Linked DNA regions of Homo sapiens. The protein of the gene in region 2 interacts with the protein of the main gene of each other region in a biochemical or structural test. Each region holds a gene or a part of one and is shown on either strand. Other genes may lie near its edges.

Region 1 (3,750 bases), on a different chromosome or scaffold from region 2:
AGAGGATTGCGAGTGTTCCCAACATGAAGAAATGATTATTTGGGGCGAATATGCTAATTACCCTAATTTGATCCTTAAACATTGTATACAGGTATCGAAGTATCACACTGTAACTCAAATTGTATGCAATTATGTGTCAATTAAAAACAAATATTAAAAAGAAAAATCAACCAATAGGAGGCTTTATATAAATAATGGTCGTACCAACTATATAATGAAATAACATACAGTCCTTTAAGTCAGTGAGCTAGAACTTGTATGCACTAGTCTTTATTTTTAATTTTTTTAATTTTTTTTTAGATGGAGTCTCACTCTGTTGCCCAGGCTGGAGTGCAGTGGTGCAGTCTTGGCTCACTGCAACCTGCGTCTCCATGGTTCAAGCAATTATCCTGCCTCAGCCTCCTAAGTAGCTGGGATTACAGGCGCGCACCTCCACACCCAGCTTATTTTTGTATTTTTAGTAGAGATGTGGTTTCATAATGTTGGCCAGGCTGGTCTCGAACTCCTGACCTCAGGTGATCCACCCACCTTGGCATCCCAAAGTGCTGGGATTACAGGCATGAGCCACTGCGCCCAGCCTGTATGCACTAGGTTTTAAAAAGTGCCCAATATATAAACTCAAATGAGGATGTTGGGTACAGTCTCATTGCTGAGATTCTAAAAGCTAAAAAAAAAAGTTCTATATATTGGTACAAGAGTGGAAATAAGCTGAAAGAATCTACATCAAGCTTTTTTTTTTTTTTTTTTTGAGACAGTCTTGCTGTCTCCCAGGCTGGAGTGCAGTGGTACGATCCTGGCTCACTGCAACCTCCTCCTCCCAGGCTCAAGCGATCTTCCCACCTCTGCTTCCTGAGTAGCTGGGACCACTGGCACAGGCCACCACGCCTGGCTTTGTTTGTTTATAGAGACGGGGTTTCGCTATGTTGCCCAGGCTGGTCTCAAACTCCTGAGCTCAAATGATCCGCCCGCCTCGGCCTCCCAAAGTGCTGGGATTACAGGCGTGACCCACCGCGCCCCACCTACATCAAACTTTTTTTTTTCTTTTTTTTTCCAGACTGAGTCTGGCTCTGTAGCCCAGGCTGGAGTGCAGTGGTGCGATTTCGGCTCACTACAACCTCCGCCTCCCGGGTTCAAGCGATTCTCCTGCCTCAGCCTCCTGAGTAGCTGGGATTACAGGCGCGCACCTCGCCCGCCTAATTTTTGTATTTTTAGTAGAGACGGAGTTTCACCATGTTGGCCAGGCTGGTCTCGAACTCCTGGGCTCAGGTGATCCACCCGCCTTGGCCTCTCAAAGTGCCGGGACCACAGGCGTGAGCCACCGCGCCCGGCCAGGTCACTTCTTTTTAACTGTACAAAAGTGTGTTCACATCATACACAGAACTTACTTGGTTCTTTTTTTCTCTTAACAAATCAAGGACGTCTCCTTGTATTGTACATGGACTTACCTCTTTGTTTCTAACAAGACATTATTTACACGAGTGAAAATACTGTTAAAGTTAGCGCAGTTTCAGCCAAATGGTGAGGGGCTACATCAGAATACTGAGGAAGAAACTGCTAGGGTAGACCTCGGTGGGAAAAGCAATCGGAAACTATTTCTAAGCAAAAAAGAGTAACACGCAGAAGGAGAAGCGGGGTAGAAGAAAGGCTACTGACCAAAACCCTGAGAGCGATTACAGGCAGGGACAACAGAGGGAACTGTCCGACACACAGAGACACCAGGGACCAAGTCAGAGGAAGCAAGGTTCCTGCAGAACCCGCGGAGACCCGAGGCGGGAAAGGAAGCGCAGCCCAAGGGTCCACGCCCCCAAGACGGAGGCTGGACGTGGGGGCTGCCCCGTGCGCAGTGGTACGAGGGCTGGCGGGGACGGGGCTCACCTTTGTGCTTCCGGAAGCAGACTACCGAGCAGCTGTAACAACAGAGGCCACAGGCCGCGTCAGCCCCGAGGGTCCCCGGCCCCTCCAGCAGCCCGCCCGCTCCCGCCCGGCCTCCCGGCCTCCCGCCCTCCCGCCATGGCCGGACACCCGCGCCCCTGGACCCCGCGACCTCCCCGCTCACTAGGGCACGCGGCAGGCTGGACAGCGGTATTTGGGCTTCTCCAAGCAGATCACGCAGACGACGGTGCTACATTTGAGCGACGCCATGGTTTTGTGGAAGGAGACTGTTCACTGCGCCGCCGCGCGCCTCTCACGCAGCCGCGCCCGCGTGCACGCCCCTTTTTCCGTTTCCTAAACGGGGACCAATCAGCGCTCAGCAGGTAGGCAAAAGCAATGGACTGATCCTGCTCACTGTTCCAGCCCTCGTACTTAGAGCGTCGATACACTCGATGCGCATCTATTAGCTGCGTCCCAGGTTTTCCTTGATTAGATCACAGCGTCGAAGAACTTGTTATGTAGCCCAGTCCCTGTCCCTATGCGGCCGTGTGGCTTGGAGCAAGCCATCGACACTGTCCAGGTGTGTTGCCCCGCATGTAAAAAAGAAAACAATACATGGAACTAAACGTCCTTTACTTTCTGGCTGGGACTTCCTGAATCTTGCAGGGACATTGGGGTTCATCCGCCCATCTCATCTGCTTATTCTTGGCAAAGGACAAGTCCAGACATTGGGCGAACCAGAATCGGTTGGATCACGCAGTAGACAGGAACCTGCCCTTCCCAACCTAGACCATTTTTCACTGGGGAAAGAAAGATGAGCCTGAACAGTGGCAAATGTTTGAGCTCCAACTGTGAGCCCTTCCGGGCTGGGGACCCCCCGGGGTCTTCTAATGAAGAAGTCGTCTCTGTCCCCTGGGAACTAAATGCTTAGAGTGAAAGTAGGACGGGGAAACGGGGAGGAAAGAGACTCACTCTTAGAGTCCTGCCGTCGCTACCCTGCACCTGCACGCCCCTGAGACTGAGTGCTTCTTAAATTTTGCACTCTAGGCTCCTCACACCTCCCCCTAGTCCCGGAAGCTAATTGACCAGGAAGCAGGCCAGTGACCACTAGTCCCAAGACGGGGATCCCAGGCAGATGAGTCTGGATAGATGGGCTATGATGGGACTTGAATGCCACCACAAACTTTAGGTTTAGAAAAAGTAATGTTTTTTGTTGTTTGTTTTTTAAGGAAATTTGCTTGCAGCTAGGCATGGCCCAGCCTTACCTTAGCTCCCATCCTACCTGCACTGGGCCCTCCCAGGGCCATAAATCACCCTTACTCCCAAGTGCCTCCTCTTCTGTGTTGGCCGTTCAGCCTTCAGGGTCCCTCTTCAATAAAGGTGTCTGCAGGGATGTATCTGCAACAACCGAGGCAGTGGTTTGAACCTTGGCTCAACCCCCTCCCTGGCTGTGTGACCTGGAGGGGTTGGTTACCCCCTCTGAGCTCCCTCATCTATTAAAGTGGATGTTTGGGCCTACTTTCCTGAGCTGTTGTAAAGCAGAGAGGAGACCATGTGCAAAAGTTTTGTAATCAGAAGTGCTACCTGATATCTAGAAAGAGTCTTAACTCTCATGGATCTCCGTCTGGACCGCATGAACATAGGTCCCAGGCCCCAAGCCATGCTCTCCAAAACAGTTCTGCCGCCTGCTTCTTGAGTGGGAGGTGAGTAATTATCCTTCCTTTGGGCGTGGCGACCCAGTCCAGTCCTCAGTGCTGAAGCTGCTGGGCCCTCTGGCCACCTGCCTGTCCTGCTTGCAGCTGCCCCAGCCTCCAACTTCTGCCCAGGACCCAGCTTAGAATCCAAAACGGGTCCACACAGGCCCAGTAACCCGCAGCG
Region 2 (3,650 bases):
GAGGCTGAGGTGGGAGAATCACTTGAGCCCAACTGTAAAATGGCCACGTATTACTTTTATGAAGTAGCATGATCATAGCTTACTAACTGCAGTTAGAAGCTGCAGTGAGCTATGACTGTGCAACTGCACTTCAGTCTGGGTGACAGAGTGAGGCCCTGTCTCACAAAAAAAAAAAAAAAAAAAAAAAGGAAAAAAAAAAAAGAAAAAAAAAAGAAAAAAGTCACACTCAGAAGAAAATCTGGCTTTTGGAATTGGTTAGTCAGATCATGTACTACTTGCAGGGCCAAAAATACAACAAATTGCTAAATAACTAAATTTATTTCTATGTTGTGTGTTCGGTTCACATTGCATTCTTAATCACAACCAACTACCTCACAAAGGTACTTTAAGGGAAGCCATCAGAGGAATCCACACAAGAGAGTGGGTGGAGGTCAGTAGGTATTCCTTAATTCCTGATATCACAAAAGCAATTCAAAGTAGTATCTTACTGATGGTGGGGCAGGAGCATGATTTGACCAGAAATACTTAGTGGTCCCTTCTCTACATCAAGTGAGCATTGTCTTAAGCAAAGTTATACATGCCATTACTTACAGGAACCAAAGATTAGACTGGCCTCTAATCTTCCTTTCTGGAAGGAAAAGAAAGAGACAAAGAAAAGAAAAGAAAAAGAAAAAGGAGAAGAGGGCATTTGACTGGAAAAAATATATTGTTGAGGGATGAAAGAGAAGATCCTGGGTTACTTATAACCTTCACACCGCAAACCTATGACACTCTTTCTTGGTACAGTGTTTTGCACGTGTAGTGATGATTCATGGCATCATGCCACTGGCACTTAAAGTGACAATGCAGACTAACACTAAGGAAATCCAAAATTCTTTTGGCCACCCCACCATCATCCCACCCTCTTTCATAGAAGATCAAAAGACAAATCTTACCTCCACTGAGAATAATGACAGCAATAAATATTGCCAAGTCGCTGTCATCTAATTCCAGTGCATTGAACTTCACAGCAAACTCAAACTTGGGCTCCATAAAGTCACCAAAAGGCTTTCGCAGGCTCTTTAGAAACTCCCTTGTCATGAAGCCTTGGCCCTCGGATATGAGAACCCCATCTTTATTCATCAAGGAGGCCAGCATTGTGTAAATGATCTCGTGGACTCCATATTTGAGGAGAGTTACTTGGTCGTTCAAGTCAAGATTTACAAAACCAGGAATGCTTTTGGCATACTCTGTGATCTCCTGCACAGCCTCCACGGAGCGAAACTGGCAGCCCTGAAAGATGCGGATGGCCACCTCTTTGCTCTGCTCCTGCAGGGGGGTGATGTGTTTGAACTTGATTTTATCTTCTCCCATCATTAAGGAATTCATGTCATAGATAACGAATGGCTGCAAATAAAACAGGGAAAACGTGGATGACTTGGAGATTTCTAACTCACAGTGAATGCCATCCCAGGTTCAGAAAACTGTTTATGTAAACTTGCTTTGCTAACTAAAATCTTTAAAGCTGAAGATGCTTAATAATGAGAAAATACTCTCAAGTTCTTTTATTCATCTTAATTATCTTCTGGGACCAAACATATTTCACCAATTTTGGTCTTCTTTCCCTTCAATTTACACTGTAACACTTTACCTATGACTGGCTAAGAATCCTGATTTCTTTTGTTTGGGGAGTCTTCATTGTTGATTTTTATATTATTTGTTTGTTTGTTTTTGAGACAGAGTCTCACTCTGCGCCCAGACTGAATTACAGTGGCACAATCAGGGCTCACTGCAACCTCCACCTCCCAGGTTCAAGCAATTCTTGTGCCTCAGCCTCCTGGGTAGCTGGGATTACTGGCATGCACTGCCACACCCAGCTGATTTTTGTATTTTTAGTAGAGATGGGGTTTCACCATGTTGGCCAGGCTGGTCTTGAACTCCTGGCCTCAAGTGATCTGCCTGCCTTGGCCTCCCAAAGGGCTGGGATTACAGGCATGAGCCACCACACCCGGCCGATTGTTGATTTTTAAAATGATACAAAATCTACTGTTTATCTTGGCTTTCAATGAAATACACTTTTAACCTTCTTTCAATAAAAAACCATTTCAGCAACTCAGCGTTGAAAATACCCACTTGAACATAAAGTAACTACAGGTTTAAAAAAATTTTTTTTTCTTAAAATTTCTTTTTCCTTTTCCTTTGTTCTCCTTCACAGGTAATAACTTTTCCGTTTTAGATGAAATCCTCTCAGATCTCAAATGAAACTATGTGCACATAAAATATGCTTAACTATGAAAAATCACTCGGAAAGCAGATTACAGCTCTTGAACCAAGAAAATGTCTATTTCTTTTTTTAATGCTCTGGAAGCCATCTATTTCACAAAGAGCAGATATAGAAGGCCTACAGGTGAATGCTGCAAAAAAGCAATTTTGAATTTATATTTTAAAATATCTGTCCTTATAGGTCAAACAATCAATAAAATACATGCCCCAATTATTCAAGTTTGCAATAGGCTGCCTTCAAAAGTTAAGTCATTTGGTCATGACATTCTCTCTCTTTTACTTCCCTTGTATAGAACTAAGCAAGGTTTGTAGTCATTGAGAAATTCTCAAGGCTGTTCTGACTAAGGGGTAACATTTTACTTACACTGGATACACTGAATGACACATAAGGAGTTAAACCTTGAATCCTGTTCAAATACTTGTATACCTGAAAGCACTGGAAGAAGAGCTGAGGGTATGTGTGTTCCAGCTTTGGTTCTGTGGTGAGCCATGTGACTTAAGAAAAGTCATTTACCTTTCCTAGGCCTTAAATTTCTCAATCAGGGGTTTCCATCTCTTCTCCGGAGGAAATTCTAGTTGCATTTCTCAGAAGCAGGATGTGTGTGGGGAGTGGGCATATGTGTGGAGAGGTGTGAGTGTGCATGCACGACAAACATGAAGTCTCTGATGGACTAAAAGTAAAGATTGTTTTGAGCAGAGATGCTGACAATTCTCTCCTGAAAGGAGAGAAGGTGCATGAGTGGCCGTGGCAGCCGGCTTCAAGATGCACTGGTTGGAGATTCTATTCATATCTATGGAACTCTATGATTTTCATCAAAAGATTAAGTTTGTTCTAAACTGGAGGAAATAACACCAACATTGAGGAGTCTCAGATATTAAATATATTTCCAAACTTGTACGTCACATCAACACCCTTTACTGGAGTTATTCTGGAAGTTTTTACTTTTGTTACCAAAAAATTCACTTCAACTGTACTACTTAGCAAACTCCAAAAGAGGACAGATGTGAGGACCCCCAAACAGGTTTACTTGGTGGCTCTAATTTTTAAGGAAATTGGGACCAAACTGTCCTTACCGTATTTCTTAAACATTTTGCTTGGGTGGTTTCTTTCCTTTTTCTTTTTTTCTTTTCAGGATTAATATTATTAATGGGAGGAATACAAGGGGGGCAGAGCAAGTAACATCGATGAAAATTTACTGTATTTTTCCAGAACGTCAGGTTCTAATTATGAGAAAAATGTGAATGGATAATGATGCTTTCACAGAACCTAGAGAAAACGTGTTTCTTGTCCTCCAGGCATTTTACAGTGTATTATAATTTATATTAATGAAATATTTACTTTCTTTTTCTAAAAAAAAATTATTTCATTTTTTGAGATGAGGTCTTGC

What was found. Proteins that work in one complex are often made in the same cells at the same time.
Region 1: the proteins of PPARG (region 2) and ZNHIT3 form a complex in vitro, tested with the Homo sapiens proteins (one study listed by BioGRID).

Annotation. Positions count from the first base shown.
Region 1 is NC_000017.11:36,485,092-36,488,841, reverse strand, and holds the start of ZNHIT3 (zinc finger HIT domain-containing protein 3), read right to left. Parts: upstream 2,162-3,750; 5' UTR 2,143-2,161; coding exon 2,057-2,142; intron 1,908-2,056; coding exon 1,876-1,907; intron 1-1,875.
Region 2 is NC_000003.12:12,414,440-12,418,089, reverse strand, and holds part of PPARG (peroxisome proliferator-activated receptor gamma), read right to left. Parts: intron 1,387-3,650; coding exon 936-1,386; intron 1-935. UniProt on the Homo sapiens protein: Nuclear receptor that binds peroxisome proliferators such as hypolipidemic drugs and fatty acids.